Linked DNA regions of Homo sapiens. The protein of the gene in region 2 interacts with the protein of the main gene of each other region in a biochemical or structural test. Each region holds a gene or a part of one and is shown on either strand. Other genes may lie near its edges.

Evidence for each region.
Region 1: the proteins of PIAS3 (region 2) and SMAD2 form a complex in vitro, tested with the Homo sapiens proteins (one study listed by BioGRID).
Region 3: the proteins of PIAS3 (region 2) and MITF form a complex in vitro, tested with the Homo sapiens proteins (2 studies listed by BioGRID).

What each region holds. Positions count from the first base shown.
Region 1 is NC_000018.10:47,811,929-47,815,675, reverse strand, and holds part of SMAD2 (mothers against decapentaplegic homolog 2), read left to right. Parts: 3' UTR 1-3,747. UniProt on the Homo sapiens protein: Receptor-regulated SMAD (R-SMAD) that is an intracellular signal transducer and transcriptional modulator activated by TGF-beta (transforming growth factor) and activin type 1 receptor kinases.
Region 2 is NC_000001.11:145,857,179-145,860,925, forward strand, and holds the start of PIAS3 (E3 SUMO-protein ligase PIAS3), read right to left. Parts: upstream 1,904-3,747; 5' UTR 1,813-1,903; coding exon 1,789-1,812; intron 1-1,788. UniProt on the Homo sapiens protein: Functions as an E3-type small ubiquitin-like modifier (SUMO) ligase, stabilizing the interaction between UBE2I and the substrate, and as a SUMO-tethering factor.
Region 3 is NC_000003.12:69,737,183-69,740,929, reverse strand, and holds the start of MITF (microphthalmia-associated transcription factor), read right to left. Parts: upstream 1,467-3,747; 5' UTR 1,333-1,466; coding exon 1,229-1,332; intron 1-1,228. UniProt on the Homo sapiens protein: Transcription factor that acts as a master regulator of melanocyte survival and differentiation as well as melanosome biogenesis.

The DNA.
Region 1 (3,747 bases), on a different chromosome or scaffold from region 2:
CACCCCTCCATTTGCTGCAGTTGCCCTTGCGTGCTGTACTCAGACTTGGAGGAAGTGATGTCTTATTCAAGGCCAGTTTTTGTACTAGTGGTTAAATAAATGGTTTCCAAATTGGAGTCAGAAGGAGAGCTTCTAAAATGTAGGTTCCCTGGCCTCAATTGTGAGATTCTGCTTTAGCAGGTCTGGAATTGGAGCACTGGGATCTGCATTTTCAGAAAACCCAAAATGATTATCAGCCAGGACTTAAACCTCTGCTTTAGACCACATTCCCTGTGGGCTTTCAGATTTTCTATCAATGTTCTTCCCTCTTCCCAGCTCCCACACATTAAAACTCAGATCATGCAGAAAAGAAGTTACAGTTCCTTCATTTCACATCAATTTCTCATGCATCCCATCTGGTTTTGGGAAGGTGTGGGACGAGGTGGATGGCCTTAAACTTGCCAATCAAAGATAACGTTCTCTTTCGATTCAAATAGCCTATCTCAGGCTTAAAACCATCTCTTTGGATAAATGCTCAGCTTTTCAAAGGTTCTTCCTAGCTTCTTCCTCATGATGGCATCTAGTGGGTGAGAACAGTCATCTCCAGGTGACACAGGAAAGAGTTTCTCTAATGTATGTGCTGAGGTCCTTGACGGTCCTGCTGCTGGTGCTCATCCTGCCATCTTTGCTGGATGTCACTGAGTCTACTGGGTAATGTAAGTGGGTCCCTGGCTTTTGTTCACTGCTGTCATGCCCTGCTCCTGACCACAACTCTGTCATTGCCTTTGGTCTCAAGGTCTCTACCTTAATAGCTTCCATGTCCCAACTATGGGACTGTTAATCTGCTGGGCTTTGGAGTGGGTGGGAAGGGATGATGTTGGAACTTTGGGATGTACTGAACATCTTGCTCAAGCTTTGGGAAGCCAACATTTTCTCAGACTGACTAGACACCTCCTTCCACCAATGCTGAGCTAGTGCTCCTGTGCCATACTGGGTAAGCCTCTAAGTCATGAGTAGGACTTTTTTGAGTGGCTTGCAGTCTTCCCCAGGCTATGCCAGGAAAGTAGTTGACTAACCCTGCTGCTCCAAGACTCGCATACCCATCCTGAAGTTTCCGTTTATTTCCCAACAGGGCAATTGCAATCTCAATCAATCTCTCCCTGCCCTGGGAGTCATTCCACTCCTGCCTAATGAAGAGACTCTTCTCACATCGTATTCTCAGTTTCTCTTATCCATGGTTAGGAGTAAAACTCATGTTCAGTTGTCCAAGCTTTGCTTTTAGTATGTGAATGGAGCTCTTAGCATGTAGAACTCCCTTCTCATTCTCAGTAAAGTCTGACTTTGAAGACTACTTATCATCTTCCTAGAGATGCCAAAGAATAATCAAGATAATAAAGGCAGGCTCTGAGATTCACAGCTGAGTAGCAACTGTGCTGTTACTCTAGTACACACCCTCTCCTTTCCTGTGACTGTCAGGCTTCAGGGCTTACCTTTATTGGAAAGACAGCAGGGGGGCATATATGAAGAAAATGGAATCTTTAATATTGTCAAAGTCTTGACCCAATAGAGACATTCTTGCCCCAGACTCTCTTGCTTCAGTGCCTTTGCCTGTTCTGGTCCTAAGTACCTTGAATATCCTTCTCTTGATGCCCTGATATAAAACTCTTTATTCCTCAAAGCCAAGTTCAGGTTATCACCTCCACCACAGACTTTTCTTTCCCTCCCCAAACTTCATTGCCTCTTCTCATCACTCCCTTTGTAATTTGTTTATACTGGTAAGAGAGCATTCATCATAATTAGGCCTATCTATGCCTACCTTTCTTGTTAAATTATGAGCTTTGTTCTGCCTTGGATATCTCTCTGGCTTGGATATCTCTCTGGCCTTTGCTCTGCACTTCCAAATGTATCCATTATTCAAGACCCAGGTTTCCAGCCTGATCAACATAGCAAGATCCCATCTCTCCAAAAAAAAAAAAAAAAAAAAATTGTGGGGCCGGGTACAGTGGCTCATGCCTGTAATCCCAGCACTTTGGGAGGCCGAGGCAGGTGGATCATGAGGTCACGAGTTTGAGACCAGTCTGGCCAACATAGTGAAACCCCATCTGTACTAAAAATGCAGAAAATTAGCCGGGTGTGGTGGTGTGTGCCTGTAATCCCAGCTACTCGGGAGGCTGAGGCAGGAGAATCGCATGAACCCGGGAGGCAGAGGTTGCAGTGAGCCGAGATTGCGCCACTGCACTCCAGCCTGGGTGACATTGCAAGACTCCATCTCAAAAAAAAAAAAAAAAAAAATTAGCTGGGCATGGTGGCAGGCACCTGTAGTCCCAGCTACTTGAGAGGCTGAGGTGGGAGGATTGCTTGAGCCCAGGAAGTCGAGGCTTCATGAGCCATGTTTGTGCTACTGCACTCTAGCCTGGATGACAAAGTGAGATCCTTTTCTAAAAATAAGGACCCAGTTTATTTTATTTAGTTATTTAGTTATTTTTGAGACCAAGTTTCATCACTCAGGCTGGAGTGCAATGGCACAGTCTTGACTCACTGCAACCTCTGCCTCCTGGATTCAAGCAATTCTTCTGCCTCAGCCTCTTGAGTAGCTGGGATTGCAGGTGCCCGCCACCACACCTGGCTAATTTTTGTATTTTTGGTAGAGACAGGGTTTCACTATGTTGGCCAGGCTGGTCTCAAACTCCTGACCTCAGGTGATCCACCTGCCTTGGTCTCCCAAACTGCTGGGATTACAGGTGTGAGTCACCCTGCCTGGCCAGAACCCAGTTTAAATTCCATCCTCTCTGCAGAGTCTTCCTTAACCACCCCTATTGAAAGTTACCCCTGCTTCCTACAAGAAGTGGTACTTGGATGTTCATGAGATACCTGTGCAAGGCTCCTGTGGGGGTCCTGGGGAGACAGTGACATGGACACTCATGAAAGGAACCTTGGAATAGCGAGTGTGTGTGCTATAAAATGTGCTTTAGATTTGATTACCACCACTTAAGTTATGAGCTCTGATATGGTTTGGGTCTCCATCCCCACCCAAATCTCATCTTGAATTGTAATCCCTACATGTTGAGGGAAGGAAGTAATTGTATTATGGGGGTGGTTCTCCCATGCTGTTCTCATGATAGTGAATTCTCACAGGATCTGATGGTTTTATAAATGGTAGTTTTTCCTGTACTTTCACACACTCACACTCTCTTCTGCCACCTTGTGAAGAAGGTGCCTGCTTCCCCTTCTGCCATAATTGTAAGTTTCCTGAGGCCTCCCCAGCTGTATTAGTCTGATCTCACGCGGCTAATAAAGAGATACCGGAGACTGGGTAATTTATAAAAGAGGTTTAATTGACTCACAGTTTTACATGGCTGGGGAGGCCTCACAATTATGGCAGAAGGTGAAGGGGGAGCAAGACACATCTTACATGGCATCAGGCGAGAGAGCTTGTGTAGGGGAACTCCCCTTTATAAAACCATCAGATCTCGTGAGACTTATTCACTATTACAAGAGCAGCACGGGAAAGACCCACCCCCATGATTCAGTTACCTCTCACTGGGTCCCTCACATAATATGGGGAATTATGGGAGCTCCAATTCAAGATGAGATTTGGGTGGGGACACAGCCAAACTATATCACCAGCCATGTGGAACTGTTGAGTCAATTAAACCTCTTTCCTTTATAAATTACCCAGTCTCAGGTATTTCTTTATAGCAGTGTGAGAACAGACTAATACAAGCACCTTGAGGTCAGAGGCTAAAATCACTTTTTCCCAAACATTTC
Region 2 (3,747 bases):
CTCAGTCCCACTTTAGCAACCATCAGGTCAGCATCATCACCACCACCCCCGAGCTTGAGCAACACTATTTCCCCAGGCCTGGAAGCAGCCAGAGTGGGGCAGGGAATGGCAGACAGCAAGCCACCCTCAGACACACCTCCGAGTCCATGCAGCCTCCCGCCTCCATCCCTGGACTCTGCTTTAAGCTGCTTATCTCCTCTCTTGCCCTTTCTCAGACTCTCAAACCCATCCCAGCCTCCTGGGAACAGGATAGGAGACAGGGAGAAGGAGGGAGAGACAAGAGGATTCAAGCCAGACAGCCCCACGGGAAGAAAGGGGCTAGGTGGCTGGAGGATTGTGCCCTTCAGCCCACCCCTCCCAACCACCTTAATTCACCTCAGCTATTTCCCCCAAGCCTCTGAAGCTTCTGTGGCCAGGGTTTTCAGGTCAGGGTTCAATGCTCATAACTTCCCCAGATCCTTTCTTGGAATCGTTTATATAACCACCCCCTCCCCACAACTTAGTCCTATTTTTCTGGAAGGGAAACAGGACCAAAACTTGGGTCGGGGAGATTAACAGTGAATCACTGAGTCCAAGTATCCTGCCTGTTTACTCTATCTGCCAGGAACCATAATCTGGCATCTCTCCTACACAGAGAAATTAATACTCCTCTACAACTTACAGCGCCCCCCTATAGGGGTGGAAGAGGAGAGGGCAGAGCTCTAAACAGAGACCCTGGGTGGATGAAGGAAAAGCCTCTGAGTCAGGGCACAGAATCGCAAATCCCCTGAAGGTAGCTGGGCCCAGTGGCTAGACCTCCAGCCTTCCCAGGACCATAGCTCCCATTTCAAAGGGCAGAAGAAAACCAGGAGGCAGGCGGATGAACTCGGTAGTTTGAGGTTCTATGAGATGTCCTCAGATGTGGTCACCCTCCAAACTCTATGTAGCAGGAGGGGAGCGCTCTCCTTAGAAGACTCCCTTCTGTGAATCTCTAGGAGATCCTGTCATGTGCAGGGCTTGCTAGCCCTACACAATTCTTCTCATAGGAGGCTTTGTCTTGGACCCCTTTTATGGAATGTGATGAGAAACTTGCTCCTCTTTCTCCCCATCCTTATCTCCTCTGTCCTGTCTTTTTTTCTCCATTAGCTTCCCCTATAACTTCCCACCTTTCTATCCCATAGTTTCACATGCCTCTGCCTCTTCCCAAACACCGCGATTCACTACGGCAGGACCTTCCTCTGAGCCTCCAGGATGCTTCTGCCCCACCCCTCGAGGTATCGGCCCGCACAGCCCCGCCCCCTGCATCTCAGCAGCCTACTGGTATTTCCCAAAGCTCGGATCCCGAGAGTAGCCCCAAAGACCCTATCCTCTCAGCTGCCTTTCCCCCGGAGCCTCCCCTACGTCTGCCCCGCGGTCCCATCCCTGCATGTGCCCCCTACTGTTGCATCTCTTGGCCTTGATCGACTCGCCCCCAGTGCCTCTACAGCACCTTTTCCCCCTGGCCCTACCCCAACAACCGCCCCTACTACTAAATCCGACTTCTACCCCTCGTCCCCGCCCCCTGCGCCTCAGCCCCCAACAGCTGCAATTCCCCTCGGCCCCACCCCTACATCTGCCCCGCAGCCCCGCCCCCGGAGCCCCGCCGCAGCCCCTTCCTCGCTCTCAGCTACTTCTCTCCCATCCTCAGCAGCTCGTGCCTGCCACGTCGTCGGCGCCCACCCGAGCCCCGGCACCCAGTCTCGGTCGCTTCCCGGACACGGCGTACCGCCGGGCTGAGTCCAGATGGGGATGGGGGGAGGGGGCCGGTACCTTTAATTCGCCCAGCTCCGCCATCTTGAGACATCGCAGGCGCCCCAGCCGGAGCCGGAGCTCAGGCCCAGGGACCGGCGCACAACTCTCCACCCTGGCGCCGGCCGCAAATGCCGCCTGCTCCGCCCAGTCCGGCCCCCTATACCTCCCCTTCCCGGCCCCGCCCGCCTGGCTTCGGACAAGCCCCAGCCTGAGCCCCTCCCTCCACAGCCGACCCAGCAGCTACACGTCTGCGGCCGGTTGGCAGGACGCGTAGCCCCGGAGGGAGTGTATGGCCCCCAAGATCGCGGGGTCCCTAGGGCAACGGGGAGGAGGCGGGCCCGAAGTGCCTGGTGGAGGGGGGCTTTGCCACGGCAGAGTTGGGAGGGGACAAGCTTTTAGGGAGCCAAAGATACTTGAAAGATGGAGGGAAAGTATCGGGAACTGCTAGAGCTCAGAGAAATGGGGGAGGGGGTAGCGAAGTTGGAGCGCAAACCCTCATCTCCATCTCTGCATAAGTTTAATCAACTAAAATCGAGAGGTCTTCCAACTCGGGAAATGGGCGAGCGCTGATCCGTCTTAGGGAAGCCGTGGAGTCGGCATTCAGTAATTCACCCTCTCCTCCTCCCCCATACACCAACTACAGTGCAGCTCGTGGTCCGATCGTAGGACTCAAACTCGGCAGCAAAAAAAAGTTTGGTGCGGGGAGCGGGACTTACCAGCACAATTGTGGGAAATGGAGAGAGGGCTCGGGAGGCTCAGAGGGCGAGCTGGAGAGGTGGGGGAATGGGGCTCGGCGCTGCTCCTGCTGTCCGCACGGCAGAAGTTCGGTCCAGCAGCCGGACGCGGCGGCCGCGGCTCCGCCCGGGCCGGAGCTCCGCCCGGCCTAGCGCTCGGGCTGGGGCCGCCCCCTCCAGGGGAAGCCCGCCAGGACCGCCAAGAGGGAAGGGGGGCGGAGCTCGGGCGAGAGAGGGAGGGACTCAGAGCTCGACGTTGGAGAGATTAACTCCTGGTGTGAGTGGATCTGGAGAGACGAGATCCTTGGATCCCATCATTCTCACTACCTCTGTGACCCCTCAACGCTTACGTATGGGATTGGGGTGGTGGCACACTGCTGCTAAGCCGGTGTGAACCAGGTATCTGACAGTATAAAGCAGTCTTCCTTGAAATGACAACTGTCCCTCCCTAGGGCAAAGCCTGGGGTACTGAATCCAAAGTGTACCTAACAGTAACTACCCTAGATACACGTGCAGAATACCTCCACCAGAGCCCCCATACCTTTGGTGTAGCTGAAGATGAACAGAGGGGTTTTCTTACCCACAAAAGGGATCTTTCTGTCCCTCTCTGAACTGCCTACCCACTCTCCTTCCTCCAAAGCCTTGGACCCTCCAGAGGCCCCATCCCAACCAAGCTGATCACTCACATGCAGGCACCAAATTAAATCTGTTTCTGTATCCATGGAAATACCTATTTTTTTATTTTTTTGGGGGGGGACCAAGTCTCACTCTGTCACCCAGGCTGGAGTGCAGTGGCGCGACTTGGCTCACTGCAACCTCCGCCCCCCGGGTTCAAGCAATTCTCCTACCTCAGCCTCCCGAATAGCTGAGATTACAGGCCTGCGTCACCACGCCCGGCTAATTTTGTATTTTTAGTGGAGACAGGGTTTCACCATATTGGCCAGGCTGGTCTCAAACTCCTGACCTCGTGATGCGCCCGCCTCACCTTGGCCTCCCAAAGTGCTGGGATTACAGGCGTGAGCCGCCGCGCCTGACCCAGAAAATACCAACTTAAGGGAAATGTACCCGCACTACATACTGAGAAACTCACAGCATTTTATAGTTGGCTGCAATTTGTTCAATAAATATTTGAGTGCTTATCAGGGATCATTAGGTGCTGAGGACATAAAAGCCTTGCAGGAGTTCACAGTCTAGCAGCAGAGACAAGACATGTTAAACCTATAATCAGCACACCAAAAAAGGG
Region 3 (3,747 bases), on a different chromosome or scaffold from region 2:
GCTCGCCAGAGGCCAAGATTACACCACTTGGCTCCCCGTTCAGTTGCCCTTCTCCACTCACCCTCATTTCAAGACCCTCTCCCACTCTGCCAGCCAGGCCCATTCACCCAGGCCCCATCCACAGCGAAGGGCAAGGCAGGAAGTTACAGCCGAGTGCAGAAGCCCTGCTGGATGCTTCCAATGATAGCCTTATCCTAGCTCACAGCTTAGAGGGGTGGAAATAAACCCTTCTCAGCTATTCCAGCCTCCATTGACCATGTCCCTTTTAGGAAACATTGTAAACGAGAAGTACGAGGCGTCCAGAGTGGCTGCCGGACAGAGAGAACGGAAGACACCCAATCCATTTCGACAGACAAGTGGGAATGGAGGCAGCAAAAAGGGTGGCTCAAGGGAAGTGGGCACTAGAGGGGATGGGGCATCAGAGCAGTGGATGTCTTCACTCCTCGTCTAAAAAGTTTCTGAAGTCCCCAGCGAATTAAACACGTGTCTCTGCCAAGCGGGGTACACTCCCAGTAACCCCCAAGACCAAGGCTCATTTCCCCTCTGCAGGTAAGGCCTGGATTTGAATGGGACTCTATTTCCAGAGAGTTTAACTTGAACAAGGGGACACGCCCACCGCTGCCCTGGCCCCTCCCGCGCCCGCTAGCAGCGGTCTGGAGGTGAGAGGCGGAGCCCAGAGAAACCTCACCTGCAGGAGCCCAGAGGCTAGTTTCCCCACAGAGACCGGACTCCCAAGAGGTGACTCCAAGCGAACTAATTGCTTCCCTCCAATGTCGCATCTCAGTCCACCCAAAGCTCTCCCTCTCCGAGCCCTCAACCCGCTGGGATCTTCAGAAAGGGGGTTCACTAGAACTCTTTCTCCCCCATCCCACCGGGACAGCGTCCCGGCCCGGCGCTCCTCCTCCCCCACATCGCGCCAGGTCGCTCCCCAGCCCCCAATCAGTCTCAGCAGCTGGCATCCTCGGCCGAGGGTCCCCGCGCCTGGACGCTTCGTCCCCGGCGACCCGCCGCGCCCCCGCGAAGTGCGCTCCATCCGAGCTTCCTAAAGGCGCACTTGGGCCGGGCAGGCGCGGCCCCCAACTGCGAGGGGCAGTTCGCCCTCTGCTCCGGGGCAAGGGCACTGGGTCCTTGTCCCAGAGCTCCCGCGACCCGCTCTCCTCGCCCCAGAGTGGCAGACGCAGTGCCCCCCAGCCGCCCGGTGCGCCTCTGCCCAGCTGTCACCACTCACCTGCTCTTCAGCGGTTGACTTTTGAGTTCGTAATAGGTTTTGGGCTCTTCATGAAACTCCTCCCCGACTTCGAAATCCGGCACGATCCCCGATTCGGACTGCATGGCTCCCGCTTCCCGTCCTTCCACTGCTGGAAAGTGAGAACAGAGCCCGGGGGCGGAGGGAAGGTAGCTGGGCCTGGGTCCCCCGAGCCGTGCGCCCCGGCGCAGTGCCGAGCTCTGCCCGCTCGCCGGCTCGCGGCCGCCCGCCCCAGCGCGGGGAGTTTACACTCGCACCCGGGCGGGAGGGGCTGGCGGCCGAGCGCCGCCTGGGATCTGTAGTTCGGCCCGGGCGGGGCATTCCCAGCTCGCCTGGGGAGCCGCTCCCACGAAAACTACAGCTCCCAGAAGGCCAGGCGGGGGAGAGGCAACGTGGTGGACACCGCTAGTGCAACTCCTGTTTGGATTCATTGTCAATGTCAGCAGCTCCTCTCCCTCCTCTCTCCCCACTTGCTTCAAGGGTACAGACTTGGCTACTTAATATGAATAAGAATGGACACTGACTGCTCTTCTACCATCGCCCCGACCTCTCAGCTCAGACATCTGCGAGGGCACGCCAAGTGCTTATTTTAAAAATAAAATAGTCAAGGGTTTTGGCACAAGAAAGTTTTAGCATTCGAGCCTGTCTTAAAATAAAAGGACTTCCTATCAGCTCGCATGCTTCCCTGGGCTGCTGCGACATATCAGCTTGTCCTCGGATTGGAACAACGAGGAAGAACTTTCCTTCGCTCTGTAATGAAAACGTTATTGGAGAAATTGTTCTTGTGCGTTCCTTTTCTAGAACTAAGTCTGGACTTTTACAATAGTATTCATCAGTTGAATGGCTCTTTCCCCTTTATCCAAGTAGCCACTTCTAATCTACAGCAGCAATTGAAAGATTCGGTTAATTTTAAAAGGCACAAAGTTACAAAATAGCGTCGTTGCTCTCTGCTTTTAATTTCTCAGTTGACTGGGAGTTCAAATGAGATTTGTCCTAGCATTTCAGGAGTGAAGATGTACAAGTGAACTGTACAAGTGTCCACCCCTTCCCGAGCTTCCCGGAACTCACTTAGGGAAGAGAATTTTAAAACTCTCCGTTGTGGCTCATTTGTACTTCTAGTTCTTCCCTCTGATTAGCTCCAGTAGGACGTGTTCCTTCTTTTCAAAAGTGTTTTGAGGCATCAGGGAGGCAGTATAGAGTTACAGTGGCATTTAAAGGTATAAGACTCAGAGTTGAAATCCCCAGTCCTTCTAAGAAGAGCTGTGCAATCCTGAGCATGTCACTTGGTTCCTAGAAGCCTCCATTTCTTCATCCATAAAAGAAGAGATTGGCAAACCAGTTTTAGAAGATGTTGCAAGGTCAAATGTAAGAGAAAGTGATTTGCAATCTATAAAAACTCTGCTCAGTGGTCATTCTTTATTAGGTCTTGAAGTTATTCCTTTCAGATTAACATCTCATTTTGGTGTTTGGCCTTTCAGAATTAATAAACTAAATGACTGTCCTAGGAGAAAATTCTAAAGAGGCTACAGTGACAACTGGGCACCTCCCAGGAGTTACCCCTTTGCATATCTTGCCTCCCACTGAAACATTTTAATTTCACATCAGAAAAGACATCCAGTAGGATGGATCGATGTTAGGGCTGGAGTTCTCAAGGTGATTTGGAAAAAGTGCAGAAGGCACACTATGTTGCAGTAGCAATTACCAAATTTTCAGAATAAAAATTAGTCCCCAACATACGACTTTTAGGCCCTCCCCTGAAACTATTAAACTATGTCAGAATACCTGAGAACACCCCTAAGGAAAGTGGGAGTTTTGTGCTCATAAAAGTGGGATCCTAGATTCCTTAATAGATGGACTGCTGGAAATTAGCTGTCAAAAGCAAACAAAGAAAACGTGTTTCCTTCATGTTCTCTGGGAGAGAAAGAAGAAAGATCAAACATGAAGGAAACATGCAGTCTAGACTTCTAATCTCATCTGGGCTCTCAATTATCAGTGCTTGGAATATGGGAGGAGGGGTTGTCATAATAACTTATGGATGTTACAGACGTTTAAGGGGTATGGGCCAGAGACACTACACATATTGCACAATAACAAATTTTCTTGTCCAAATTTCAGTGGTATGTATCCCCATTGAGAAACATGGGAAGCTGCCTAATCTTTGGGCTCACCAGAAGTTTTTTAATCTGAGGGAAGCTACGGATCCTCTTCTCAGAAAATACAGATAGAAACAAAACTGTGCATAATTTTGGTCAGCTGACCCACTGAAGGCTATCACAGACTTTATGTTACAACTGCAGTTTATAACTTCTTTAGATCTGCAGTGAAACAGTCTACCCATCACTTATTACATCAAATAGTGACCTTCCAGACCTAAGGGACTAACCTCAAAGGAAAGAAAACTCAGGAAAACCAAGACCTCCGAATTCATCTTCAACTAAGTACACCCGCAAGAGAGGTCTCCAGGGTGCAGACCTCTGAGCTGAGGTTGTCCTGAGGTTCAC